Linked DNA regions of Homo sapiens. The protein of the gene in region 5 purifies or fractionates together with the protein of the main gene of each other region. This does not show direct contact. Each region holds a gene or a part of one and is shown on either strand. Other genes may lie near its edges.

Region 1 (4,266 bases), on a different chromosome or scaffold from region 5:
AATTTCAACTACAATTGCTGTGTAAGCCAAATTACTCAAGTTCCATGAATATCAAGTGCCTTGCCTCTATAATGTGGATAATAAAAACTGTGATATACAGCTGTTATAAGTATGAAAATGAAATAAAGCACATAACATTTGACACAATGTAGATATCCAAAGATTGTTCCCATTGCAGTTTCTCCCTGTTTGGAAGATCCTTGCAGAATATTATCTGGTGTCATAACATGGCTGGTCAAATGACTGCTGTTTTCATTTTCTAAATAATAGAAAACATGCACAAAGCATTATCACAGGAATCTAAAGGATATTTCCATAATTTGATAATTTATTGACAATCTATTGAAAATAATTGGCTACTGACAATATACTGTGGTATGTAAGTTCATCAGCTTTAATGTTAATTGAAACCTTACCTGGGATTATTGATAACCTTCACTAGTGCTTCATAGAGCTCTTTTTCAGTAACTGTCTTCCATTCTAGCAATATCCCCATGCCTTTTGCCTGTACTCTGGTCATAGTATCATAATGGTCTCCAAAGAGTGGAATTCCCACTACAGGCACACCATGATATATAGTTTCAAAAATACTGTTCAAACCACCATGGCTCAGGAAGGCTTTAATCTTTGAATGCCCTGAAGAAAGATGAAAAAGAAAACAACTTACAACATTATTACTCTACAGAAGAGATTTTCCCAGAAATTCATTAAAAATCGGCACTACAGTAAACATGCATTTCAGATAAAGGATTCCTAAAGGTGTAATTTCACTGATTCCTGCTCTACACCAATTAAAATATTTGTTATATACCTAATTGTCAGATTTTGATATATCAATTAAAAGCCATTTTTAAGTAGTTGAAATGTATATTACTATTTTTAACACAAATATTGCATGACTAACAACACATATTTAAATGGCCAATAATTATTATGAAGCCAATGAAAGCAAGAAATGCCAAACAATACCAGAGTGAAAAAACAGACATCTACTTTCTGGCTACTCAAATGTTTATCAATATTAAAGTCAAAAACACTTTTTAAAAAAAATGTAAAAAAGGGCTGGATTCCAGAAGTCCATGAAGAGTTTGTGTGCTTCTCCAAAAAGAAATGTTGTAATCACTATTCACAACATTCAAGTTCTATCAGCATTAATATTTCACAATTTTAAGGTTTAATTTTACATTTATGTGCTCAAACATGTAGAGGTAAACATTTATAATCATTTGTAAGACATGAGACATCACATAACATTTAGTTGTTATGGGAATAAAAAAGATAATTTGTCAAAATTAATATGGAAGTTCAAAACCTAGATTTACTCTCCTGGTAAATGGCCTACATTTCTATAAAAGGGATCAAAAGTTGGCATAAGAGTTGTAAAAACAAAACAAAACAAAAACATTGTACTTAGGATATATGTTATTGGCCAGAAAGAAATTATAGCTAGCTGAAATGTCGATCTTTTAAAATACACATGTGCCAGGTACAAAATTAATATGTATGGGAACCATGGTCTCAATGGTGCTCCCAGAGCTCTTCCATTCTGAAGACTGGTGGAATTGGTTAGTCAGTGTCTCTAGCCCTTACCCACAAGTGGCTTTTCTGACTCTTAGGTCCAACTAAAGGATCTGCCCTAGAAGTGGATTTCAAACTTTATTTTTAGCAAAAACCCCTCTCTTTGAACAAAACCTACCACCAAACCCAACAGTTAAATAAAGCAGAGCTGCTGTGTAAAGAGGAGGGGCGGCTACGAGGGGAGGGGAAAGACATTGATTTGGTTCCTACTTCTCATCCCGGAAGAATCTTTTGATCATAGTTAGAAGCTATTAGAGGACTCACAAGGATAGTGCCTATTGTTAAAAAAGATACTAATCTTGAAAAAGTCAGAGTTCTCACACTGAGAAGCCTAGAGCAGCTATGGACTTGAGGAGAGTTTTCAGGCATGGACCTTGCAGTAGAGCCTCACAGTCAAAAAAAAGAAAAAAAGAAAAACAATAAGAAATGGAAAACCCACACACAATAAAAGTTTAGATGTTCATACATAACAGTGTCACACTGTCGCACTGAAATAGTTGATAGTCAGGTTATCTCACTTAAACTTCCTGCTTCTTTCCTATCTTCTAAGGAATCTAAGTCATAACAGTAAAGCCATAAAAGATTTAAAAATAAAAAAATACAAGGATCAAGAAAGGTAAATTGCCTTGTATTCTTTTTTCTTTAGTTTTAGCATTTATAGAATAGTATTATAATAAGCTAGATGAAAATAAATTATATACATAAATAAAATTCTTTACTGGTTTTTAGTTAAATTTAGTTAAAAAACTAATTTAGTTAAAAAACACACTTAAAAGATACGCATATACTAATTACTATTTTAATTTTGAGAATCAAAATCCCCAAGATTAAATAATATAAAATGCTTCAAAAATGCCCAATGATTTAGGACTAAACAGAGCAGATAATCCAGTTAAAGTTAAAATAAATTGACTGTTCCCATGGTCTTCTGCTTCTCTTTGGTTTCAGACAAATGAATAACTTCTAATTTCTCTTGGTTCTCAGACCATCTGTAACAAACCTGTAACCTAAATCTACATTCTTATTGTTTTAACTGTTCTACTTTCATCTGATTACTCTAATTAGGTATAATCTTATTCACTACTAATTTATATAGTTCATTAAGTACATAATTTCCAGATAATTAAAATTGATGGCTGGTCTAAAAATTTTAATATAGAGGCCCAAAGGTTTACATTTTACAAACTGTTTTCCAATAAATAAAGACTTAAAATTTTGGCCTCAAATTTAAGATTTGAGATACTGGATAAAAAACATAATAACTCTACCATATACTACATACATACCGTATACCGTATGAACCTCTGAAGTAAAAAAAAAAAAAAAGTCACATTTATGTAATTAAAACCTAACAGCCAAGTAAGTAACCACACATCATTGACTTACCAAGCAGGTCATTTTGTGGTAACCATTCTATGAGTTTAGTGTTGTTTCCTAGATTCTTTGGTTTGGGTCCAGAAAACCTAAAATGTACACCAGACAATTAGTCTTTTAAAAATCAAACCTTACTCATAGTATGGGCTCTCTGATTAAATTATGAGATTTAAAATAAATGTTTGATGATCTTTTGTTGATATTCTTAAGAATGAAACCATGCTTTGGTAACAGCAAATATTTGATTAAGTTTCTTTTTAATAAAAACTTTCACTGGTTGGAGGAAAAACAAGAAATAATTTGCTTACATAGAGATCTATTTTCCATTGGTTCCTCACGCCTATACACATACAGAGATGGGAAAAACAAACAAACAAACAAACAACAAACAAATAAACCTACACTAGAAGTTATTCCCCACAAACAGCCAGAAGCTGGAACAAGAAGGAGCAGGGAGAGCTGCCACTGCTATGGCAGTCAATATCCCTAAATCCTTAACACCCTGAGTCTGAGGGAAGGCAGAAGTATTGAAAAAAATCAGTAAGTTCTCTTCTTTAGCTTCACCAGAAATAAAAGTTTTGTGGGGTGAAGCACATAATTAGGTTGTTTCCTGCCTGATCTTTAAAAGATAAAACAGAAATATGCTTAACAACTAAGAGGGTGACAAAAGAGTCTGAATGGAATAGACATAAACTGTCCTAAATGAAGCAGAAGAGGTACTTTCTGGGGTTAAGCCTAACAGAGGAAACCCAATGGGACTCGAATCTGAAGGGAAAAGTCCTGAACAGTTAGAATAAAATAAATATCACTGCATAGTTCAGCCAGGAGAAGTGGGAGCTAATCCTTACTCATTTGCTATAAAGGGAAAATCTCTATTACTCAAAGCCTACTTGCAATGGCTTAAGGGGCACTTTCTTCCACTCATGGTAGTAACTATGGGACCGACGTTGTATCCCTAGAGTTCAACAGTGGTAGTACGTGCTCAATAAATACACGCTAAATAAAGTGTTCACGTCTGATTTTTCAGCATTGGGCTGGAAATTCCAAAGACAGTCATGTGCTGGCAATGCCTTCCAAAAGAAGCTGGGGTCAATCTATGGTTCTGTCTTAAACCGTGTTAAATGGTACGTGATTGTGTTTTTAAAGGCCAGGTTTCTTAAATAAAATAAATCAAAAACATAATGTAAAGGAGACAAAGTGGGAGCCCAAAAGAGTCCACGGTATTTTAGGTATTCGTTAATCCATCATTTTCTTCCTCATTTCAAAACTGATTTGAAGGAGTATATAAAAAGGCATGCAATTAAAACTAATTTT
Region 2 (4,266 bases), on a different chromosome or scaffold from region 5:
TACCACCCAATTTCACTATAGTTTCTTTTGTAGTTGGGCACCCTGTTGGAGAGTTGACTTATCACCTGTTTTATTCCTAGGCTATTCTAATGAGAGAGGTACAGGGAACTCCGTGGCCGCCTGGGGCAGGGTGACTGTCTAGGACAGCATTCATCCCATTCCCCACCTGGCAAGGTGGCCAGGACTTGTGTGACTTTTTTTTTTTTTTTTTGAGACGGAGTCTCACTCTGTCACCCAGGCTGGAGTGCAGTGGCACAGCCTCGGCTCACTGCAACCTCCGCCTCCCAGGTTCAAGCAATTCTCCTGCCTCAGCCTCCTGAGTAGCTGGGACTACAGGCGCGTGCCACCACACTCAGCTAATTTTTTGTATTTTTAGTAGAGACGAGGTTTCACCGTGTTAGCCAGGATGGTCTCAAACTCCTGACCTGGTGATCCACCTGCCTCGGCCTCCCAAAGTGCTGGGATTATAGGGGTTAAGCCACCGCGCCTGGCCGACTTGTGTGATTTTCAGGGGCAGGACTTCCGTGCAATCTTCCGAGTCATGTCTGAGAAAGGGAGTAGAATGAGCTCAGTGGGTTGCCAGGACTGAAATGGAAATCAAGTGGCCTTTTCTTGAGGTGTTGGCCCCAAGGGAGGGAAAGGACATCCAGGTACTACTAGGTCCCCAAGGAACAGTCCTCAACCCTGGGGAGGTCCAGTCTTTACAGTCAGCCTTGGGGCTGCACCCTTGGCCCAGCCTGGCCGTGAGGACAGGGACTCACCCACAGCCGCAGTCCATCCATGCAAGGTTGGACTTTGGTAAGAGGTGTCAACAGCACCTAGGTCAGCAGCCACCACTGCTGACCACATGCGGTCACTGCAGATGTGCTGAGTGCTCTCCAGCTTGGGGGAACAAGTTGGACTGAGCCACCTCTTGGAGTGTGTAAACCCCAGGTTCTGTGTTTGCAACAACAGGAGAGAGAAGAGAATCCCCCACAAGTGTGGCAAACTGGATATTTCTGTTTACCTGGCAAAAGGAACTTGAACTAGGTTTGATTTGATTTAGAAAATAAAAAATCTGTCGGGCGCGGTGGCTCAGGCCTGTAATCCTAGCACTTTGGGAGGCCGAGGCGGGTGGATCACGATGTCAGGAGATCGAGACCATCCTGGCTAACATGGTGAAACCCCATCTCTACTAGAAATACAAAAAATTAGCCGGGCATGGTGACGGGCGCCTGTAGTCCCAGCTACTCGGGAGGCTGAGGCAGGAGAATGGCATGAACCTGGGAGGCGGAGCTTGCAGTGAGTCAAGATTGTGCCACTGCACTCCAGCCTGGGCAACAGAGTGAGACTCCGTCTCAAAAAAAAAAAGAAAAGAAAAAATCTACACTGGGTGTGGTGGTTCACGCCTGTAATCCCAGCACTTTGGGAGGCTGAGGCAGGTGGATCACCTGAGGTCAGGACTTCTAGACCAGCCTGGCCAACATGGCAAAACCCCGTCTCCACTAAAAATAAAATGCAAACATTAGCTGGGCGTGCTGGTGCACGTCTGTAATCCCAGCTACTCGAGAGGCTGAGGCACAAGAATCGCTTGAACCCGGGAAGTGGAGGTTGTAGTGAGCCGAGATTGCACCACTGCACTCCAGCCTGGGCGACAAAGTGAGACCCTGTCTCAAAAAAAAAAAAATCTGGATGTCACTATATTAGAACTTGAAACATGGAATAGTTCACACCACACACACCGAAGCCCAGTCTCTATCGAACCTCCTCCCTGCAATTTCCTTCTAACCTCTGGTCTGATTTCTTTTTCTAACAGAGCTGCTTATTTCATTGTTTCTGGGCTCCCTGTGCTTTCCTGTTTGATCTCCTTTTCTTCCTGCAGCCCAGCTAGTATCTAGTCCTGTCATCTGGAAAACCTGGTGTTTCTCTCTTTATCTTTACAACTTAAATTTATTTTTATCCCCTTATCTTCCCCACCCACCCTTGCCCATTAACATTTTATTCTTCTGCCCTGATTACTTTCTCCTCCCGCTGCCTGGTTTCCTTTTTATGTTTGCTACTACTATTTATTCTTGCTGCCTAATTTCTTTTTACTCATGCAGCCTGATTTCGTTTATCCTTATTGCTTGATCTTTTTTAGCCCTGTAGCCTGATATATTTTAACATTTGCTGTCTCATTTACTTCGTCCTTCTTGTCTGACTTCTTTTTATCACTGCTGTCAGATTTCATTGACCCTTTCTGCCAGAGTCTTGTTATCCTTGCTGCCTGATTTCTTTTACTTTTGCTCTCTGATTTCTTTTGGAACCTTCCAGCATCACTTATCAGTTGTGCTTCGGTGTAGGGTATTAGTAGGTGTACCCTCAACCCTCCCCTTGCCTCACTCCCCCACCCAAGCTACCCCAGTGCCTGGACCCTGCACCTGTAGACGAGGATGTCATCAGCCGAGCTGTTGTACTGGATCTGGTACATGCGGATGCCCGGGATAGGCCGCTGATCCGGCCACTGGACAAGAGCAGCTGTGGCCCCGTGCTCAGTCACCTGGACGCCACGGTCGGTAGGGGGCCCAGTGTCGGCCACCTTGGCAGAAGCAGAGGCAGCGGAGGGTGGGGTGAGAGCATCAGGATCCCCGTCCCGCGGGGGGTCACAGCTGGTGCTGTTGGCTAGCTGAGGAGGTGGTGGGGGACCCACAGTCAGCTCCACAGCAGCTGTGGCCTCGCCAGCTGCATTGGCCGCAATGCAGGTGAAGATGCCACCATCACCCGGCTCGGTGACCAGCAGCTCCAGCGTCCCATTGGGGAAGGCGCGGGCACGGCTTGAGTTGCCTAGCAGCCGGCCCTGGGGTGACACCCAACGCACACGGGGCTCTGGGTCCCCCACTGCCCGGCAGCGCAGGGCAGCCGGCCGACCTGCGGGCACAGCCAGAGGTGGTGAGCGGTGAGTCACCACGGGCGGCTCGCAGACAAACTCCTCCTCGCCCACCGCCCAGAAGTAGCGGCCGCCCAGAGCAGGTGGGGACGCGCAGGCCTCGAGGTCGTCCTCCCGCGCCAGGCGACGCAGCCACACCAGCTCGCAGTTGCAGTGCAGGGGGTTCCCGCCAAAGGCCAGCACCAGGGCAGAGGCGGGCGAGCCCCGGGGCCTGGCGAGCAGGGGCAGGCGGGAGAAGAGTGGGTCGGGTGGGATTGTGGTCAGGCGGTTGGAGGTCATGTCCAGCCGGGCCAGCTTGTGCAGGCGGGAAAAAGCGCCGGCGGGCACAGAAGCCAGCAGGTTGTGGTCGAGGCCCAACGTGTTGACGTTGCCCAGGCGGCCCAGGGCCTCCCAGGGCAGCTGCTCGAGGTTGTTGTAGGAGAGGTCGAGGTCCTCCAGTGTCTCGGCACAATCATCCAGGGCGCCGGCCGCCAGCGCTGCCAGCTGGTTGTTGCTGAGGATGAGGTGGCGCAAGTTGACCAGGCCGCGCAGCTGGCCCTCGCCCAGTGAGGTCAGCCGGTTGCCATCCAGGTGCAGGGCACGCAGGGCCCGCAGGTCGGCGAAGGCGCCGGCAGCCACGTGGCGGATGGTGTTCCGCGACAGGCTCAGATGCAGCAGGCCTGTCATGTTGGCCAGGTCGCGGCGGCGCACGGAGGCGATGAAGTTGTCTGCCAGCCGCAGCTCGGCTGCCCGGCGGTCCAGCGAGGGTGGCACGAACAGGAGGCCTGCCCCTGGGCACAGCACGCTTAGGGGCAGCGACTGTGTCTGGCAGCGGCAGCGGCGGGGACATGGGCTGGGTGTGGCTGACTGGGGTGGGGATGAGGCAGGGGCCAGCGGCAGCAGGCACAGGAGCAACGGGAGGATGGCCATCGCGGGCAGGGGTGTCCTGCGGAGAAGAGGGGAGGCGTGAGGGCAGAAGAGGGGTTCTGCAGGGGCTGGGGGTGGTCTGAGACCAGGAGAGAAGGTCACAGTGGGCTGAGGGCAGAAGGGCTGGTCAAAGACCGTCAGATGTGACCAAAAGCCAGAGGAAGGCCAGGCGCGGTGGCTCACACATGTAATCCCAGCATTTGGGGAGGCTGAGGCAGGAGGATGGCTTGAGGCCAGGAGTTCAAGACCAGCCTGGGCAACAAAGTGAGACCGTGTATCTATTATACAAAAATTTTTAAAAATTAGCTAGGCATGGTGGCGCCCACCTGTGGTCCTAGCTACATGGGACACTGAGGTGGGAGGATCAATTTGAGCCCAAGAATTTGAGGCTGCAGTGAGCTATGATTGCGCCACCACACTCCAGCCTGGGCAACAGAGCGTGACTCTGTCTCTCC
Region 3 (3,500 bases), on a different chromosome or scaffold from region 5:
CAGTAACAGCTCCCTAGTTGTGACAATCAAAATGTCTTTAGATATGTGATAATTATCCCCTTCCTGCCACCTTGGAGAACTGTACTAAGAGTGGAAGCCACAAACGCTATCTGACATCATCTTTTTAAGGATGTTATCAAGCAGATAACTGGTTTTAGTTTTTTTGTTTGTTTGTTTCTGAGATGGAGTCTTGCGTTGTTGCCCAGGCTGGAGTGCAGTGGTGTGATCTTGGCTCACTGCAACACCCACCTCCTGGGTTCAAGCCTCAGCCTCCAGAGTAGCTGGGATTACAGGCGCACACCACCACGCCTGCCTAATTTTTGTGTTTTTAGTAGATACGGGGTTTCACCATGTTGGCCAGGCTGGTCTCAAACACCTGACCTCAGATGATCTGCCCGCCTCAGCCTCCCAAAGTGCTGGGATTACAGGTGTGAGCCGCTGTGCCTGGCCTGGTTTTAGTTATTTCAAACTTGAAAGCCTAGTGTTCCCCCTGGTTTCCAGTTCTGGCACCAACAATTTGGATTGAACAAGAGGATTGTACTAGGGATTAGTTAGTATAGTCCAGGGCCAGTCCTAGAAGCTGGAGAGCCATTCTGATGATATATGCTTCCCTTGGAATCTGTCAGTATCAGTAACATTGTGTGACATGCAGGCAGCTCTGGTAGTTAATGTCACATGCTGGTGCAGAGACTGTAGGATTCTCAATGGTATAGCTGGGCTGGCAGAACAGTGATGTGGATGCATAGGCCATTAGTTTGCAGTCTCTTTTTTTTTTTTTTTTTTTGCCATAAATGCAGCCTATGTGCAGTGCATTGCCTACACATCTGCTTTGAGAGTGAAGAGTTGATCCTGTATGGCTAGGATTTGTGTCTGGTTTAAATGAATCCAGCAAAAAGAAGAAAAAAATTCCTTCTTTATCTCATCCCCATATTGGTATAATCAGAGGCTTTTAGGATAAATGGGTATACAGTAGGTATTTGAGGGATTGTAGTAGCTGATTTTAGATGATTGCTGATTTATTAGAATTTCTGGTTAGAGATTCCAAGGCAGCAGGGCTCGGTGAACTATGACCTATGCGCCAAATTCAGGACCTTTGATTGTGTAAATAGTTTTATTGGAACACCTCCACTCCCATTTGTTTGTAACAAATGCAATAACAGATAAACACGGTAATTCCAGTATTTATTTCATAAAACATCTGAAACATTCTGAATCCATCAATCAGCAGTCACCATGGTTATTCTAAATACTCATCTGATCAAGTTCCTTATTGATTCAACTATTTCCCAGGACTCCCATGGTCTAAGGCAGAGTCAGCAAACCATGGCCTACGGGCCAAGTCTTCCTTGGTACCTGTGTTTGTAAAGAAAGCCATGCCCATTTAATTATATGCTGTCTATGGCTGCTTTTGCACTATAGTGGCAGAGTTGAGTAGTTGTCATACAGACTGCAAAGCCTAAATATTTACTGTCTGGTTCTTTACCAAAAATGTTTATCAGTCTCTGACCTAGATAGTCTCTGGGTGAGTCTCTCTCTCTACTGGATTTTGTGTGTGTGTGTGTGTCCCAAGTCTCTTTCACGCCTGTGTTTGGATTCGCTCACGACATCTTCATAAGGTGCACACATAAAATGTAGCATTTCTCTGCCCTCTGAAAATGCTTCTTCTAAGTGGCAGGTCGAGAGTTGTAGTGGTTAGGAGCATGGGTTTGGAGCCAACTGGTTTGTCTTTGCCACATCCTGTCTGCATGGCTTAGGCCCTAGAAGCACAAAACTGCTTTAAAGTGGGGTGTCAGTGCCTCTCACCAAGGACTGTGAGACATGAGCAAAGTGCTGTGTGTCAGGTGCCTGACATTGTGTGCTTGTTGTTGGCTGTTAGTGTGACTTGTGACTAGTACTCAAACAATAATAGAACTTGAAGAGTATCTTCCCTTCCCCAACCCATCCTTGTTTTGGTGATTTGAAAAGAGACTTCTGAACTTCTTTGGGATTTGGCAACTCCAAAGTGATACTCAGAACTCCCGGGCAGCCCGTGTGGAACATTCAGTGCGTTTGTTCTTGGAGTGTGGAGGGCTTTTCTGTGTATTAACTCTGTCAGTCCAGAGAGGAGTGTGTTGGCTTTTGCCTCCCAGGCAAGTGTAGAGCCAGAGCCCTCTGCAGGTCAGCCCCATCTGCATCTCCCAGCCAGTGTGGCAGGGGCCATGCCTGCCAGTGACGTCTCGGGAATTGTGTCATGGATGGTGCCACTCACCCGAGTCAATGCTATTCTTGTTTCTGAGGTGAATTGATCTCTGTCTCCAGCAGCCTGACCCAAATTCTGATCCCTAGTGATCACCTCTTATCTAACAGGACAAACCCGGTCCACTTGTGTTCTCTAATGAACAGTAATGGAAATCTGAGGCAAGGTGACATTTCCCCTTATGGTCCATCCACACGTTGTTAACCCTGGCTTCTCTGGGCTGGGGTACTGTCCTAGAAAAGCTGCCAGCTCAGGCTCAAGCAGCTGTGGGCTCCCAGCTTCTCTCTGCCGACCCCCATCCCACTTTGCCTGCTGCCTGTTTCCTCCTTGACCTCCAGGTTCTGTGTGCCTGTTCTTCCCTACGTTCTGCCTGTCTCCTGGTTCCCTGAGCTTTTTAGTCCTGGACTGGCCCTTTGGCTTCTGTCTTTCAAGCCTGGTCCTTCAGGAAATGTCTGTCATTGGCTGGAATATCCCCCACATTTTGTGCATACAGTGAGAAACAGATGGACAAAGGCCCTGCTCTCATAGATGCTTTGTTATCTTTGGAAGGGAGAAATAATAAGCAAGAGAAAGTCAGATAGCAGTACATTCCAGGAAGAAAAATGGTGATAGGGTTTAAAATATCTGAGGGGCTACTTTGCACTAGAAGGTCACCTCTCTGGAGGTATCTTTTAACCAGAATGACACACGGAGCAGCCAGGTACAGTGGAAAGAGAGAGGTGGAGGCAGAGCATGCCAAGGAGAAGGCACGGCGTATGCTAGGTCCTAAGGCCTACTCCAGGGTAGAAGGGAGGCCACTGTAGCTAGAACGAAGCAAGCAAGCAGTGGCATGGAAGGTGTTGAGGCAGTGAGAAGCCGGCAGCTTATGCAGAGCCCTGTAGGCTATGACTTCTGGTATCAATATGGATGTTCTTATGCAGAAACCAGATGTTGACCTCACCCTATAGTTCACTGCTTTCTCTATGGGAGGAAGGAAGTTTTTTCCTTAAGGAGGCACACACGCCGGTTGGAGAACCAGCATAGGGCTTTTGGTTGCTGGTTGGGGGCAGTGGAGAGGTAACTGCTTTGGACTTCCGATTGGCCCTCATTGGCTTGGGATGCTATGTCTAAGATGTTAATACCATTTAGGGCTGCCGAAGATTGCTCTGAAAGGTTAGCAGCTGCCCTGTGTTGCAGATCCAGATAACGTTCTGAGATTCGAATGAGAGCTTTTGCAAGTGTTTCCTTCCACCTCTCTTGTGAAAAAGGAACAAAAACAGGTTGG
Region 4 (4,266 bases), on a different chromosome or scaffold from region 5:
GATAAACAAAATGTGGTATATCCATACAATGGAATATAATTCAACCTTAAAAAGGAAGGAACTATAAATGTTGTCTTTTTTATATTTTTATGAAAAAGCAGAAAATTACTTTTGAAGAAAACAGGCTATTTAAATATTGAAATATATGTATGTTGTGAGTTTAAGGAGCCTGTAATTGTCAGTTTTACAAAATCATCCGTGTTCAATGGTTGTAAATAAATTCTCAAAACATCATTTCAAAAAACAAAACAAAAAAAAAAAAAAGGAAGGAACTGTCACATCCTACAACATGGATTAACCTTACAGATATTATGCTAAGTAAAATAAGCAGGTCACAAATCCTGCATTATTCTACTTATATGAAGTATCTAAAGTAGTCAAATTCATAAACACAGAAAGTAGAATGGTGGTTACCAGGAGCCTGGGGGTGGGGATTAAGGGTAGGGAGAGAAATAGGAAGTTGTTTAATGGGTATAGACTTCCAGCTTTACATGAAGAAGTTCTGAAGATCTGCTACACAACAACGTGAATACACTTAACACCACTGAACTGTACATATAAAAATGGTTAAGTATTTTGTTATGTGTTTTTTTCACCAAGTTTCTAGAAAATAAATAAATGAAAATAAATAAAAACGTAGGTTTCATACTCTATCATGACTGACCATCTAAAAGATCCTCTTAAACATCAAACCTCTGCCCTAAAACGGCAGAGTTGTATGCAACAAAATCAATCAGGCAAATGGCAAAGGCTTTCTAGAAACCCTCCATCTGTGGTTTTAAAAGTAATCACATGGGAATTAAAAAACAACAACAACAAAACAGATTTGGAACTACAGATGAGAACTAATGACCACCTAATTCCAAAATGCCCTAATAAGAACAAAGCACCTTTGAACTTCTTCTGGAGCCCTTGGACCTCTAATGGAAGTCTGCGAGAGATTTCTGCCTGCCGAGGCAAATGCCACTACCAGCCCTTGCATTATCTCCAGCTCCTGTTAGTCCAGGGCCAGCTTCTGAGAATATTCCACAAGTCTAGACTAACTCATCACACCAATCTGGAGCTAAGCAGTATCTACAGAAGGCAATATTGCTTAACCTTAGCAATACAACCAGGTATCTAAGTCATCAAGAACAAAGAGACAGTAGCTTCGAATACCAAATATTCATTTCCCTGTATTATCCACTCACTGGTTTCCTTTTAAGAACCTTCATGATCCAGAATGGCCTGTGATTACTTAAACTGTTAACAAGTCAACAGAAAGTGATATGAAAGCTTGTGGCTGATTGAAAAAAAAAAAAAGTACATTTTACTTGAATACTAATACATGGGTTTTGCATGAACTGTCAAGTCTGTTCTTTTTGCAGTTGGTACAATATAACAAAATCTAATTCCTGAAGTGCTCATTTGGGGTTACATAGTTTGGCTCAAGGGACAGATGTCTTAGGGCGGAATCCTGGCTCCACTATTTACCAGCCCTATCACGCTGGGTATATTACTTAACCTCTCTAAGCCTCAGTTTCATGATCTCTAGATTAGGGTTTTATGAGAATCTGAAAATCTTAAAATCAAAAAGTTATAAAAGTGATGGTTTAGATAAGTGTATACAACTCCTTTTAGTTACAAGGAAAAGCAACATGTGGGGAAGAAAAAACTGGTGTTACTCAATGTCCTACTATAGCAGACTTCCTCATGACATCTGCACCAGAACTGAATTTTACCTGTACTTCTGACTCTCAGGTTCTCAGGTATAAAAAGTCCTATGCACTTTTTTCATATGCTTTGTAAATAGTTTTGTACTGTGTTTTGCACCTACGTCACAAATACAGCTTAAAACAAAAATTTGTGCATGAAACTATAGTACACTGGCAAAAAATTTTAAAAGTCCTAATAAAGGCTGTCAAACGTTACTCTGCCATTTAATTGCCAATTGATAGAACATGTGACTATGAAATTTAAATTGTCATAGGTTGAAACACTCTTGAAAATTTATTCGAATTTATATTTACTAGATACATAAACTATAGCTTCTCATTTATAATAAATTAAATGCCTTCCAAAAACCCACTTCACAATGAAATTATATTACAATGAAAGTTTAGGCAAACTTTCAATCAAAACTGAATGCCTGCTATTTATGTACTACAGATGTTGACAAAGGTTCTGCCCTACAGAAATTCCAGCCTAGGTGAAGAATGACACCCCTGAAATCATTTAAGTAGCTAACAAGGCAGTACACAATTAGGTGTCAAAATGAATGATGAATGATTAACAAAGACCACAAATTCAGAGGGAGCATGCAGGACTGAACAGAAATGGCGAAAGGCGGTAGGAGAGAGGCTGCTGCAGTGCCCCATGGTGAAGGCAGTGGGAGAGTGATCAAAAGAGGATGTAACAGGCACTGATGCCACTTGGTGAAGGGTCAAAACTGAATCCAGTGGGGCAGGCAGAATAATCATAGCATTAATAAAAAACTGAAAACTGGAGGTGGCGCAAGATAATTCTGCCCTGGACACATGCAGTGTGCACCAGCAGCTAGACACACACAGGGAGGAAGACAACCAACAGGCAATTGGAGAGCAGCAACTGTCAGCTAGGGCACAACCAGAACCGAGAAGTACAGAGTCACCGAAACAATGCCAGATGCTGCTTACAAGAGACCGTAGGGGAAAATTCAGCTGTAGGAAAAGGGCCTCTTGGTCTGGCAAGGCCAATCAGAGCGCTTGAGTCACATATAGGCAAGAGAGAGAACACCTAAAATATCAAGCACCTAGCAAAGATTTTATTTTCCTCCAAGAGTAATTTGGCTTATTGCTACTCTGGATAGTAACAATTAGATGAGTTTACATCTACTCCCAAAGCAATCTTGTTGGCAGATGTCTATGAGGGTCCACTGTAAGAATTAGAAGGAGGAGGAAAATGGTCATTAGCAAGAGGAAAAAAGGACACACTTTTTCCAACTACAAAACTCCAATGCTCCATCAGGCAACAGCCTTTAGTAAAAGCAGGCTACAAACGTTCATTAGTGAAGCACTTATTAAATAACATTCTATTTACAAGGCCCTAAATTAAAAGGTACCCACTCTACCCCATACAAAGGGTTAACACATCTCACTCTTAAGAAAATCACTTTCAAAAACATTTTAACATTATCGAGTAATAAGTAGGTTAAAAATAGTTTGGTTAAGAAAAAGTAAATAACACTCCTAGTCAATTTGGCTACCCTTAGAAAACTATTAGATTCTTATCTGTTTTCTTGTGGTCTTTAGTCCTATGCACTTTTCTCATATGCTTTGTAAATACTTTTGTACTGTGTTTTGCACCTATGTCACAAATACAGCTTAAAACAAAAATTTGTGCATGAAACTATAGTACACTGGCAAAAAATTTTTAAAGTCCTAATAAAGGCTGTCAAACGTTACCCTGCCATTTAATTGCCAATTAATAAAACATGTGACAATGAAATTTAAATTGTCATAAATTGAAACATTCTTGAAAACTTATTCGAATTTATATTTACTAGATACATAAACTATAGCTTCTCATTTATAATAAATGCCTTCCAAAAACCCACTTCACAATGAAATTATATTACATGATATATAATGCTTTTTTAAAAAAGGTCTTATTTGCCAGTCATAATGGGCTGCTTTATAATTCAAAAGACTACTAAAAGTATACATTTAATATATACACATACACATGTATTTTCACTATATATTTTAAAAATATATTTTCACAACTCACACACATTTTTGCTATTCTCAGTATCTAGATGTTAGCCTCAAGACAAAATCTTGCCACCAATCTAGAACTAGTTATTTGTAGTGATTATAACAACTTCTATCTCTGGAAACTCTTTCAAAGTCCTTACAAACTTTACATCACAGCCAAAACCATCTCAAAGGTACCTTTCCTCTGGACTAGTGATAGCACACTCCCATAGCTCAGTTAAGTCATATAGGATGTTAAGACAAGGAATGGTCCATGCTTCTGACTCAAGAAAATCAACATCAAGTCCAAACATGAAAAACTACATTAGGTAATTTATTTCTGCAGCTTTTCTTCAGGAGACAATGAGTTTTATTGTCTTTTAAAGATTTTGCAGTGAAATTATACAGTAATGAAGGAAAAGAAATACAAACATACAAAATACCTGCAGAATCATCATTAAAACTGCAGGTAAATCTTAACTTTGAAATTTTAAACTAGTTTATGCTACTTCAATAGACACAAAATTCCTCCGGGTGTGAATGATCAAACTGA
Region 5 (4,842 bases):
CTGTTGCCTAGACTGGAGTACAGTGGTGCTATCTCGGCTCACTGCAACCTCTGCCTCCCAGGTTCAAGTGATTCTCCTGCTTCAGCCTCCCTAGTAGCTGGGATTACTGGCGCCTGCCACCAAGCCCAGCTAATTTTTGTATTTTTAGTAGAGACAAGGTTTCACCATGTTGGCCAGGCTGATCTCCTGACCTCAGGTGATCTGTCCGCCTAAGCCTCCCAAAGTACTGGGATTACAGGCGTGAGCCACTGTGGCCAGCTTCATCTCTCCATTGAGCTGTTACCACAGCATCTTCTGACCATTGACAGGAGGCTGTAAACCTATCTTGTTCATGGGTGTTTCCACAGACACTTGCATAGTGCCTGACTCATAGTAGATGTTGAGCAGATACTTATTAACTTCCCTTAAGAACAAAGCAAAACTGTCTTTTCTTATTCCCTTGCCTATAAGCTCTCAATTGCCTATCACACTAGGCCTAGCACACTGTGCCTAGCACGTATGTTGCTAAGGGTTTCTGAATTGAATGAACATGGGAAACATAAAAGCAGAGGAAAGGATAAAAACTCTACACCTGTAGGACGGAATGAAGGGAACATACCAAGTGACTGAATGTGGGAGGGAAGGTGTGGCACCTGTAGCAGGGAAAGAGACTATCTGCTTTCTCCCTTCTTCCAACCTGCATCCTGGAAGTTGAGAAAGAGATGAGGTGAGGCCGGGCACGGTGGCTCATGCCTGTAATCCCAGTACTTTGGGAGGCCAAGACAGGTGGATCATCTGAGGTCAGGAGTTCGAGACCAGCCTGGGCCAACATGGTGAAACCCCGTCTCTACTAAAAATACAAAACTTAGCTGGGCATGGTGGCACGCGCCTGTAGTCCCAGCTACCAGGGAGGCTGAGGCAGGAGAATCACTGGAACCCGGGAGGCAGAGGTTGCAGTGAGCCGAGATCGCGCCACTGCACTCCAACCTGGGTGACAAAGCAAGATTCTGTCTCAAAAAAAAAACAAAGAGGTGAGGTGAGGTCAGTGTTACCAGAAAGGAAATAACTGACCATGGCTGAGAGACTTTTAGCTGAAGCCATGCAGCAGGTGCTTTAAGTCAGACAATGATGGGTAAATATTGTTCCTATTCTCTATAGCTCCAGACAGACAGAAGAAAGGGATTCTTTTCAGTCTAGAAAAATGCTCACCCCTTCCTCAGAACATTTCCACTGTGACGAAAAGAGACTGATGAAGCCTCAGAGAGAAAGGCAACTCTGGGTGGTGATGGTAAGTCAGAGACAGTGAGAGGGAGGGTGAACTTTTTATGAGGCCTTGGAGGAAGGAAGGAAAGCCGGGAGAGGGGAAACTTCTTGGTAGGCTTATTTTTTATTTTTATTTTGGTAGTGACAGTGGGAGTCTTGAATGGATCTAATCTAGGGCAGGGGGAGCTTAAGAAACATGTTTGCATCAAAACCCCCTTTTGCCTCTCAATCTGGGCAGCTCTGGCTGGGGACCGGCAGTAACCGGAGATCTAGTCAGTCAGCCAGTAGGCGGGGAGTTCTGCCCCCTGGGAGGAGAAGAGTTGCTGCAGCTCCTTCCCTGCTTTGGAGGAGGAGGGGAGGCGGGGTAAGTTTGGTGGGAAACTCTGTAATTTCCTTTTTTACTTTCACAGCAATAGTGCAGAATCCAGAATGGATGTCCTCTTTGTAGCCATCTTTGCTGTGCCACTTATCCTGGGTAAGTCCACTCCTCTCTCTGAGCTTTTGTGCCAGGTCTTCTACCATAAATGGGGTGGGAGAAAAAAAATGAGGAGTGGGTGAGAGGTACATTTCAGTGGGGAGCGATAGAGTTTTCTCATCGTGCTGGGGTCCGGTGTTGAGGGCAGAATGGAGATCTGGAAGGCAGAGCCAGGAAAGGGGGAAAAAAGCAGAGTCCTGTCAAACAAGGAGGATGGAGCTCCAGACACAAGGAGGCCCTAGCAACACTGAGCTCAGTTCTCCATCACCACGGAAGTTGAACAAGATGACAGGGGCTAAAGTAAGGGTGAAGGAGGGATTATTGGAAGGTGTCACAGTCTGAAACTAGTAGTTAGGGTATCTCCTTTCCCAGAGAATTGGAGAAAAAAACCTGCTATTAGTAAAGACACAGAAGTGGGGTGACCTTTAGGGTAGTGGAAAACTGGCTGTCTTCAGGGACAGGGTCCCAAGAGTAGCTTGGCTCCTTCCCTCCTTTGTTCCCCAGTCTACCAGGTGTGTCTCATTGTTTCCTTTTCCTCTAGATTCTTGTGTCATTAGCTTGGAGTTGAAGGGAAAGCATTCAAGGAGCTCAGGGAAGTGTTTAGCAGGAGGCCTGGAGTTCTTGATCCAGTCATATCAAAGCCACATATTTTTAGTTCTGAAAGGGAAGAAAAACTAACAGAGATGGGTCATTTTAGTCCAGCTGACTCATTTTAAGAAAGCGGATGTTAAGTGGATTGTTCAGGGTTATTCTGTTAGCAGTGAAGGTGGAACTAAAGCTCAAATCCAAAGCCTAAGGGTGTATGTTAGTTATTTGTAAGAGATACTGATAAGAAAAGATGTCTCACAAATACAGTAAGATCTGGAGCATACTAAATAGAAGACTTGGCGTTTTTAATTCCTGGTCTCTACTTTTCCTACCTTTTTTAGGTCTGGTTCTCCCTTTGGGTTTATAGTATGTGAAGGGGACTGTTTTCTGTTTTAGGAGTTCCTGGATTGAAAGGGCACGGAGTAACAGGCCTCATTACAGATATGGATCCCAGAAGACTGAGAGGGGTGTAGAGGTGCACAGGCAAGAAAGGAGTATGACTATTGGAGGAGAGAGAGAGAGAGAGAAAAGAAAGAAAGAGCAAGAAAGCTGGGAGCGCTGAGGTCATCTCCAGGTGTCCTTTTGTTAGTAAGGTGTTCCAGATGTCCCTTGACCTCTAGTCCTTGTCCCCATAGGACAAGAATATGAGGATGAAGAAAGACTGGGAGAGGATGAATATTATCAGGTGGTCTATTATTATACAGTCACCCCCAGTTATGGTGAGTACATGAAAGGCTCTTGCCCTTAGCCAACTGGAGAGAGGCTTCAGGATATTTAGTTCTGAGACTTTGCTCTTCACTTTGAAGCAGAGCAATGGGGTCAGAGAAAAATCTGGCTATGAACAAAACCTATCAAGACTCATGATGGGGCCGGGCGTGGTGGCTCACACCTGTAATCCCAGCACTTTGGGAGGCTGAGGCGGGCGGATCACGAGGTCAGGAGATCGAGACCATCCTGGCTAACACAGTGAAACCCTGTCTCTACTAAAAATACAAAAAATTAGCCGGGTGTGGTGGCGGGTGCCTGCAGTCCCAGCTACTTGGGAGGCTGAGGCAGGAGAATGGCATGAACCCGGGAGGCAGAGGTTGCAGTGAGCTGAGATCGTGCCACTGCACTCCAGCCTGGGTGACAGAGCAAGACTCCATCTCAAAAAAAAAAAATGAAAAAAGATTTATGATGGGCTGGGCGCAGTGACTCATGCCTGTAATCCCAGCACTTTGGGAGGCTGAGGTGGGTGGATCACCTGCGGTCAGGAGTTTGAGACCAGCCTGGCCAACATGGTGAAACCCTGTCTCTACTAAAAATACAAAAATTAGCTGGGCATGGTGGCACCTGCCTGTAGTCCCAGTTATTCAGGAGGCTGAGGCAGGAGAATCGCTTGAACCTGGGAGGCAGAGGTTGTGGTGAACTGAGATCACACCACTGCACTCCAGCCTGGGCGACAGAATGAGACTACGTCACAAAAAAAAAAAAAGACTCATGATGATGTTATTTTTCCAGATAGTGATTTTTAGATGGGAGGATTGCTTGAGCCCAGGAGTTCAAGACCACCCTGGACATCATAGCAAGACCTTGTCTCTATAGAAAAAAAAATTTTTTTTTTTTGAGACCAAATCTCATGCTGTCACCCAGGCTAGAGTGCAGTGGCACAATCTCAGCTCACTGCAACCTCTGCCTCTCGGCTTCCAGCTATTCTCTTGCCTCAGCCTCCTAGGTAGCTGGGACTACAGGCGTGTGCTACCATGCCCGGCTAATTTTGTATCTTTAGTAGAGACAAGGTGTCACCATGTTGGCCACGCTGGTCTTGAACTCCTGATCTCGTGATCTGCCCACCTCAGCCTCCCAAAGTGCTGGGATTACAGGCTTGAGCCATCGTGCCCGGCCAAATTTTTTTTTTTTTAATTAGCTGGGCATGGTGGCACATGGCTGTAGTCCCAGCTACTCAGGAGGCTGAGGCAGGAGGATCACTTGAGCTCAGGAGCTGGAGGTGGCAGTGAGCTATGATTGAACCAACTGTACTCCAGCCTGTTAACACAGTGAGACCCTGACTCTAAAAAAAGAAGAACTTGAAAATTTTTCAAATTTGTAAATTATTTTAGATACCTACATTGAAAATATAAATGCATACACATTCACAGTCATTTTTAACATTAGTTAAATAAAATTGGATTATACCAATAAATGTTACAACTTAAGTTAAACTATTCTGAGTAATTTCTTCCCTTTTCATTTCCAGATCTAGAGTTACATTTTTCTTTAATTATTACTGATTTTCTTTCTCCTCTGCAGATGACTTTAGTGCAGATTTCACCATTGATTACTCCATATTTGAGTCAGAGGACAGGCTGGTGAGTGAACTCTACATCTAAAAGGGTTAGGATAAGTAACAATTAAAAAGAAACTGGCCGGGCGCAGTGGCTCATGCCTATAATCCCAGCACTTTGGGAGGCCAAGGCGAGTGGATCATTTGAGGTCAAGAGTTTGAGACCAGCCTGGCCAAAATGGTGAAACCCCGTCTCTACTAAAAATACAAAAAC
Region 6 (3,087 bases), on a different chromosome or scaffold from region 5:
TCCCCTTCCTATCTCATTATAGTCATTCTCCACATACTCTTTGAGCATGAATAGTTCAGGATGCCTTTTTCCCAATTCAGTTTTAAAATAGTAATTCCGTTTGGAGATGGAACAGACATTGAGGCTTGTAATTGTTTACCTGAGATCTTAGTACCCTTCCTTCCTCTCCCCGTTTCCCTACTATAGTTGATCCAGCATCCAGATGTGGTTAACTGATTCCAATTCCTGAAGCTGTGACATTCTCTGCATACCTGGAAGCTCTTAATGAGGGAGTCTATAAAAGCTGTGGGGAGAACTAGCTTCCTCAGCTGTAAATCTGTACTTTTTTATGGTTCTCTAGGATTATTCTTTTTTTCCACTCTCACTCTAAACTGCCCAGCCCCCCACCCCACCTCTTAAGAACTGCTGAAGATAGAGGCTAGAAGCTTCTGTGAGGATGAGGGCTATAGGAAGGAAGGTGTGAATAAGGGCAGGACTTCTTGGTGTTGAGCTGAGTTCTCTTGCTGTGTCTGATATGAGGAGTGAGGGAGGAACTTAAGGGAGGATAACTTTTTTGCTGTTCTCTTATATGAGGGCCTCTGGCAATGCCACTTATTTCTGATTATTGGAATCCCCCCAAAATTTAACCTCCCCTTCTCTTGCCATATCTAGACTTTTCTTGTTTTTCCCTTCCAAAGGGATTTAAAATTACAGGTTTCACATCTTTCCAGATTCTTTGAGTCCAAGGTGTCCCTAACTTTCTTGTTATCTCTTTCCCTTATGTTATTCCTGTATTTAGGTTTCTACCTCCCGGATCACTTTCAATAGGATAGATTAGAATGTAATATTGTTTAGCAACTACTTAGGTTTAATTTCTTATTCTACCACACTAGCTCTGAGACCCTGCGCAGATAATCATTCTCTTTTCAGACTGTACCAAAAGGAACCCCATTGTGAAGGTTGCTGTGTGAATTAAGTGATATTCTCATATCATGTATTCACACTACAATTTGCTTACCATAATTTGCATAGTAATTATTCAATAAATATTAGCTTTTACTGGGTGATCAGGGTACTGTGGAAATACATATTTCTTTCCCTGAGTAGGTTCTAGCTAGGTATGAGTGCCCTAGTTTGAACATGTTTGTGTGTGCATACACCCAGTTAATGCAGTCGTATTTTGAGAAAAAGAAAAGGCAGAAAGAGTCCCATTCACTCCCTCAAGCCCAGCTCACTGGCAGGAAAGCTGGACATTGTTGCTTTGGAGCATTGATTTTCCTGCTTCTACGCCACTACAGACCAGAAGCTGTAGATGCCACTGCCTGCTGATTCTTAGCTTGGGGCCCCTGCCATTTAAAATATAGGCAAGGTCAGAGTATAGGATAGCTTCCCATGCCTTCGGTTGGAGGATGTTTTAGGATAAAGAAAAGACTTGTAAAAAGTCATCTTGAGTAGTCTTTTTTTGGGTGTTCTCTCAATATAGGAAACAAATGAGCCACAGGGAGAGAAAACCCATTTTCAGCTCAGGCCAAAGTTAGGGGTAGATGTGGATATGGTTCCCTTGGGAAGATAGAATACATAACACTTCTGCTACTCAACCACTTCCAGCCTTAGTCTTGTAGTTGGTCTCGAGTGGGGTCAGTGTGCTGATAGAACTGATAAGACAGGGAAAACATGGCAGTACATTGAACCCGCAGTAGCGCTGTCCCCAATTCTGGATCAGGTTGATGTCACAGGAGCTTTCCTTATTTTTATTTTACTTTAATTATTTTTAGAGACAGTGTCTTACTGTGTTGCTCAGCTTGGAGTACAGTGGCTATTTACAGGCCCAATTATAGCACACTGCAGCCTTGACCCTCTGGCCTCAAGTGGTCCTCCTGCCACAGCCTCCTGAATAGCTGGAACTACAGGAGCACACCACTGGGTCCTGCTTTCCTTTTTTTTTTTTTTTTTTTTTTTTTGGAGATGGGAGTCTCACTCTGTCACCATGCTAGAGTGCAGTGGTGCGATCTCAGCTCACTGCAACCTCCGCCACCTGGGTTCAAGCGATTCTTCTGCCTCAGCCTTCCATGTAGCTGGGATTACAGGCGCACGCCACCACGCCCGGCTAATTTTGGGTATTTTAGTAGAGATGAGGTTTCACAATGTTGGCCAGCATGGTCTCGAACTCCGGACCTTGCATGATCCGCCCGCCTCGGCCCCCCAAAGTGCTGGGATTACAGATGTAAGCCACTGCGCCCAGCCAGCTTTCCTTATTTTTGAAAAATGTGAGTCAGGCAATATTCTTTTGCCATTCCCAACTCATATTCCTGGGGAATTGTGCTCTAGGTACATGGGAAAAATTTTTACAGTGAACTGAAAGAATATTTGAGATGCTATTTTAGCCACTCTTGTGTAACAAGGCAAGTTCGTTGGCTATGTTGGTTTAGATTTTTGTCAAACTTCGTTGAGGAAACCTAGGAACAGGGACTGCAGGAGAATAGGACACTAGCTGGATCATCTCAAGAGAACCTTTAGATCTTCCATACTAGCTGGATCATCTCAAGAGAACCTTTAGATCTTCCATTCTGTGGAGGCTGGGAGAGGGGTCTTGTTGTCTTTGGGACTGTTTTGGCTCAAGCTTTTCAGAGAGGGGTTGTTCTAGGTACCCCCAGTTTCCTGTCCTCTTTCCATCCTTCCTTGGCCTGCATGTCCCAAACCTTATACCACCATGCCCTTAGTGTTTTCTGTCTTGCTCCAGGACCCCATCTTCTTAGTCATTGAACACGAGGTTTCCTGTCTCAGATCCTCTTCACCTCCGGTTCTCCAAGGTGTAAATGTGGCACTTGATTAGGGAGAAGAGCTCAGCACTGAATTCTAAACTCTTTGACCGCTTTTATTTTTTTTTTCAGGTTCAAGTGCTGGATTGTGTCATGTGACCATCCCAAAACTCAGAGCACCCTATGGCCGTCTTTGCCCTCTGTCACATAACTTGAAAACTGCCTGATGGCCTTTTTGCAGTGGTTCCCTCCAGGAAGCCTTGATCTCAGTTGAAGAAGTTCTTTCCTGGCATTCCAATGCCCCTGTCAGCTCCATACTCCTCAGACACCCTTAACAAAGGCTGTCATG
Region 7 (4,266 bases), on a different chromosome or scaffold from region 5:
TTTTTCAAGGACCTGAGAGTTGAATTCCTATGCTCATGTTCCTATACTACTTTTAACATTTGAGTAACTTTACATTTTGTAATCAAATGAAAGTCACTAAACAATTTGCTTGCCTTGAAAACTGACAGTAAAAAGAACAAAAAGCTTTATAAGATTGTAGTTATCATTTTATTCATCCAATTGATTATCCCTCTCAAATTATCTCCTGTGATTTCTGTGGTCATCTCCCTTAACCATGTAATAGTACTTTATCATTTCCATTCAAGCGCAGTGTGCTAATAAAAGCACAGATTGCTTAAGATATTTATATCTATTAAATGACCAGAAACCTGAAGAATTAGAATTCCAAATTTCATGATGTAGTTTTGCAAGTTCAGTGTGCTTTTGCTATTTTCAGTCACTGCTGTAGGCAACAACGAAGTCAGATGTTATCTTTTAAAGAGCCTACATAACTTTATGAAGTTTTTCTAGTCAGTAGAAATACAGTTGGAAAGCAAAATGTTTTTGAAATAAAGCTAAAAGGCACAAGTTTATTTCTGCATAAGGTCATGCAAAAAATCCTCTCAAGATTGTTACCAAAGTGACATTTATCAAAAATTTCTTATTGATATAAAATGAAGCAGAAAGTTCCTTACTTGCTGTTAAAATTACTGCGAATTTAAGATAGGAAATGAAGCCAATTAGATGTGCAGGCTTATGTAATGTTTGAGACATGACTAATAAGGTGGTATGAAGTAGGATTAGAATTAGCCCTCTCTGCCATACACTAACTTCTTAGTATCTTTTTTTCTTTTTCTGCTTGAAAACAGATATGACAATTGATAGCTGTGCCAATCAATCTGTTGAACAGCAGGAATGTATAATCCACAGTTTAATGGTTAATTGAATATACAAAAATGTGAAATAATTATTTACAAAGTTGCCACAATTTAATAGCTAGATCTGTGTGTATATAAGCCTCACAAATGTTCTTAGAATTTTAAAGAAGCTAAAATGGTAAAGAAAAAAAAAAGCCTTCATACACATTTTTGTTATCTCCCTATAATCTGTTTCCCTGGGCCTAGAACCCCTACTAGGAAGCAGAGCTGAGCAACAAAATGCCCGCCACACCAGCTTGCTAACTGGTAGGGGTCCAGTTCATAACCTGGCGAGCACATATTAGATACATTCCATTCTCCATTCAATGCTGGGCCGACTGGTACTGCTTATTACTAAACAGTGAGCTTAGAGTACTTTGAAATGTTCCAATCCTGCCAAAATGACCACGGTCTGAAGGTAGCCCAGGGAGTAATCCTAGAACAACAGTCAAGGAACGCAGCTGCATGGCAGTTCAGTGGGCCAGGCTGATAAATTTCATGCTTTTTATAATAGATATTTAGCTACTGTTTTATACTCAGGGGTCACGTTTGTTACCAATTCAATGCTTACTGCTCCTTACTAGATGAAAAGTAATATGGATCTTCAAACAATAAGGTAAATGTTGAATGTTATGTATATATAGATTAATACATCTGATTCTGTTAATAGTGAAAATTTATTTAATTTTAAGTATCTTTTCTTTCTTATCGTATTCTATTTTTATGGCTGAGTTGCAGTTGAAAAAGTAGCACTTTGTTTACCTTACCAGGAAACTTCTAGCACTAAAGATCAAAATATGTACTTTTAGTGATTACATTTTTTAGTCACTGATAATGTTTTGACAGTTATAATGTGGCCTCCTTGTCATGTCATAATAATAATTCTTAAAACTATTATATTCAATCCATTTAGGATGATCTTAGAAATTTTAATATGTGTTAAGAACTTTTAAGATCATAATCTAATTCCCATACATTGTAGATTAGAAGGTTGAGACTCTAGATGTTCAATAGCTTAGCACTAGTTCCCAGCTTGTTAGGGATTACCAAAGTTAGAAACCATGTTTTCTGACTCTTACAGTGTTTTTCTTTTAAATGTATTATAGGTAAACAGTTAAGCTATTTTGTTATCTATTATACGTCTGCCATTTCTGATAGACTCTATATAAAAATTAATATATAGTATAATTAAGTACAGGTAGAGGAACTCTCACTTTTACATAGAATAAAGTTGTTTTGAGGTTTGATTTTTTAAAAAACATAGTAATTATCATTCAGGCAATAATGAGAAAAGATTAAAATTTATAAAATTTATTGATTTGCTGGACAATGCAAACCAATTAATATTTGTTATAACCAATTATCATAACACTGTAATACCTGTGGTGATCTCCTAATAAATAAACTCACCTAGAATTTCAAAATAGCTTTAAAAATTTACATTTCATTGATATTTTCTTTTTCATAGATGAGGAGCTTTTCTCTGGAATGTATATAGATTTCATGGGGACAGATGCTGCTATTTTTCGAAGTTTAACCAAGAGGAATGCGGTCAGAACTGATCAACATAATTCCAAATGGCTAAGTGGTAAGAAAGCATTTGATGCATTTATTTTTTAGTATCGTGTTAAACTAACTTATTTAATTCTATCCTAACAACTAGGGAAAATGGTTAAAAACTAAAATAGCAGGCTATTACATGAATAATGGTAATTCTGTACCCTATGATTTAAAATATTCGGGGAAAATAAACAATTGAATAGCTCATAGTCCATATTTCGATTCTTTATTTCTATTAATCATCCTACAGTTATCATATGAATATGAATAAATAAAAGTGACAGTGATAATTTATATTTCAGTACCCAAGCATCTTCTCCAGTTGTTTAATTGTAACATATTGCAATTAAATATGCTTTTTACTTCATTTAATCTGCTTGTATGTTTTAACAATACCAAATCTAAAAATTATCCCAAATGTATGACATTGAGATGCAATGAACAGAGTATAGCCGGGGCCTCCTCTCTTTTTGTTTTATACTTAGATTCTAAAATTACAAAACTGGTATGTATTTTCTCATAAATGGACTAATATTCAGTAGAAATCATAGGAATGATAACTATGATTATCCATATTCAGTTGCCTCCAGCTCTTGGAGTCATATGGAATTCACATCAAAAAAGGTGCTCATTTGGTTTACCGTATTATTCCAATCAATTGCTGTTGTTTAGAGCAATTAAAAAAACAAAAACAAAAACAAAAAACGAAGATTCTTGTCATTTCACCCTGGAGAAAATTTTTAGCTGACCCTAAATGTGGCAATTCATTTAACATTGCAGAGTTAAGCATGAATCACCACAGTGAAGCATCCTATTTCGCTGATAGGCCAGCACAAGAAAGCATTGATTGTTCATTTACTTATTCAGATTATTCCTCCAGTACATCTGGAAATAGAATATTCTAAAAGTTGTTTTGTTCTTGAAATAAGGAAACCCTGTATGTCTCCAAATGACTAATGACGCTGTTTTTCCTTGAAAAGTTTCCCCTTCATTTCGTATGTTGCATTTTAAGAAAAGTCATGTTTTTCAGAGTTTGGACTTCCAACTCCTCATTCTGCTTCAACAAATTTGAGTTTATATGTGCTAGATTGAAAAACATACTTTGAAAAATAAATATTTTTTTTCAATAAAATAGCCATCAGATTCCTTAGGAAATAACTGGTAGAAAAGTTTTTCAATTTTTTGAAACTCATTGGTGCACAAATAATTTTCACATTTCCTGCACTTCCTGTGGTACTCGACATTCCAAATGTGGCATGGTGTGTGAATGCAATTACTGCTTTTAGAAATGTGCCTGTAAATGTTGAATTGTTTTTTTCTACCAAAGATGGGGAAGGCATCTGCCTGTGGTCTACTTGGATGACAGAAGATGGATTTTCATAATGAATATATACCTAGTCTTTTACCTTTTTTTCTAGAACCTATGTTTGTAGATGCACATGTCATCCCAGATGGTACTGATCCAAATGATGCTAAGGTGTACTTCTTCTTCAAAGAAAAACTGACTGACAATAACAGGAGCACGAAACAGATTCATTCCATGATTGCTCGAATATGTCCTGTAAGTATTAATGCTGTTCCGATTTGAAGAAAGACCAAGAAATTCAAATTATGGTTTATCTCCGTGCTTTTATTATCAACCATTACAAATAAATAAAATATTGAGGGAAGCATTTAATGTAACATTTATTCATCATCATTATTATATTTAATATTCATCATTTTATATTGAATATAGTGTTTATAACCCCAACCCAAATTCTAACCCTCAATAAGTTATATGAGATAAACATACCCTATTTTAGTAAAAATCTTAATTCAAGAAAATATTTTGTTTTTGTTCTTGAAC

Evidence for each region.
Region 1: the proteins of C1orf54 (region 5) and UGT8 purify together in Homo sapiens (co-immunoprecipitation; 2 studies listed by BioGRID and IntAct, with this or other methods). This does not show direct contact.
Region 2: the proteins of C1orf54 (region 5) and LRFN3 purify together in Homo sapiens (co-immunoprecipitation; 2 studies listed by BioGRID and IntAct, with this or other methods). This does not show direct contact.
Region 3: the proteins of C1orf54 (region 5) and MGAT5 purify together in Homo sapiens (co-immunoprecipitation; 2 studies listed by BioGRID and IntAct, with this or other methods). This does not show direct contact.
Region 4: the proteins of C1orf54 (region 5) and TMEM131 purify together in Homo sapiens (co-immunoprecipitation; 2 studies listed by BioGRID and IntAct, with this or other methods). This does not show direct contact.
Region 6: the proteins of C1orf54 (region 5) and GDF11 purify together in Homo sapiens (co-immunoprecipitation; 2 studies listed by BioGRID and IntAct, with this or other methods). This does not show direct contact.
Region 7: the proteins of C1orf54 (region 5) and SEMA3C purify together in Homo sapiens (co-immunoprecipitation; 2 studies listed by BioGRID and IntAct, with this or other methods). This does not show direct contact.

Annotation. Positions count from the first base shown.
Region 1 is NC_000004.12:114,664,455-114,668,720, reverse strand, and holds part of UGT8 (2-hydroxyacylsphingosine 1-beta-galactosyltransferase precursor), read right to left. Parts: intron 3,042-4,266; coding exon 2,965-3,041; intron 637-2,964; coding exon 417-636; intron 1-416. UniProt on the Homo sapiens protein: Catalyzes the transfer of galactose to ceramide, a key enzymatic step in the biosynthesis of galactocerebrosides, which are abundant sphingolipids of the myelin membrane of the central nervous system and peripheral nervous system.
Region 2 is NC_000019.10:35,938,974-35,943,239, reverse strand, and holds part of LRFN3 (leucine-rich repeat and fibronectin type-III domain-containing protein 3 precursor), read right to left. Parts: intron 3,831-4,266; 5' UTR 3,815-3,830; coding exon 2,400-3,814; intron 1-2,399. UniProt on the Homo sapiens protein: Cell adhesion molecule that mediates homophilic cell-cell adhesion in a Ca(2+)-independent manner. Promotes neurite outgrowth in hippocampal neurons.
Region 3 is NC_000002.12:134,257,072-134,260,571, forward strand, and holds part of MGAT5 (alpha-1,6-mannosylglycoprotein 6-beta-N-acetylglucosaminyltransferase A), read left to right. Parts: intron 1-3,500. UniProt on the Homo sapiens protein: Catalyzes the addition of N-acetylglucosamine (GlcNAc) in beta 1-6 linkage to the alpha-linked mannose of biantennary N-linked oligosaccharides.
Region 4 is NC_000002.12:97,989,028-97,993,293, forward strand, and holds part of TMEM131 (transmembrane protein 131 precursor), read right to left. Parts: intron 1-4,266.
Region 5 is NC_000001.11:150,271,147-150,275,988, forward strand, and holds the start of C1orf54 (uncharacterized protein C1orf54 isoform b precursor), read left to right. Parts: upstream 1-1,643; 5' UTR 1,644-1,671; coding exon 1,672-1,717; intron 1,718-2,940; coding exon 2,941-3,024; intron 3,025-4,594; coding exon 4,595-4,653; intron 4,654-4,842.
Region 6 is NC_000012.12:55,752,624-55,755,710, reverse strand, and holds part of GDF11 (growth/differentiation factor 11 preproprotein), read right to left. Parts: 3' UTR 1-3,087. UniProt on the Homo sapiens protein: Secreted signal that acts globally to regulate anterior/posterior axial patterning during development. May play critical roles in patterning both mesodermal and neural tissues. It is required for proper vertebral patterning and orofacial development.
Region 7 is NC_000007.14:80,803,818-80,808,083, reverse strand, and holds part of SEMA3C (semaphorin-3C isoform 2 precursor), read left to right. Parts: intron 1-2,325; coding exon 2,326-2,445; intron 2,446-3,835; coding exon 3,836-3,978; intron 3,979-4,266. UniProt on the Homo sapiens protein: Binds to plexin family members and plays an important role in the regulation of developmental processes. Required for normal cardiovascular development during embryogenesis.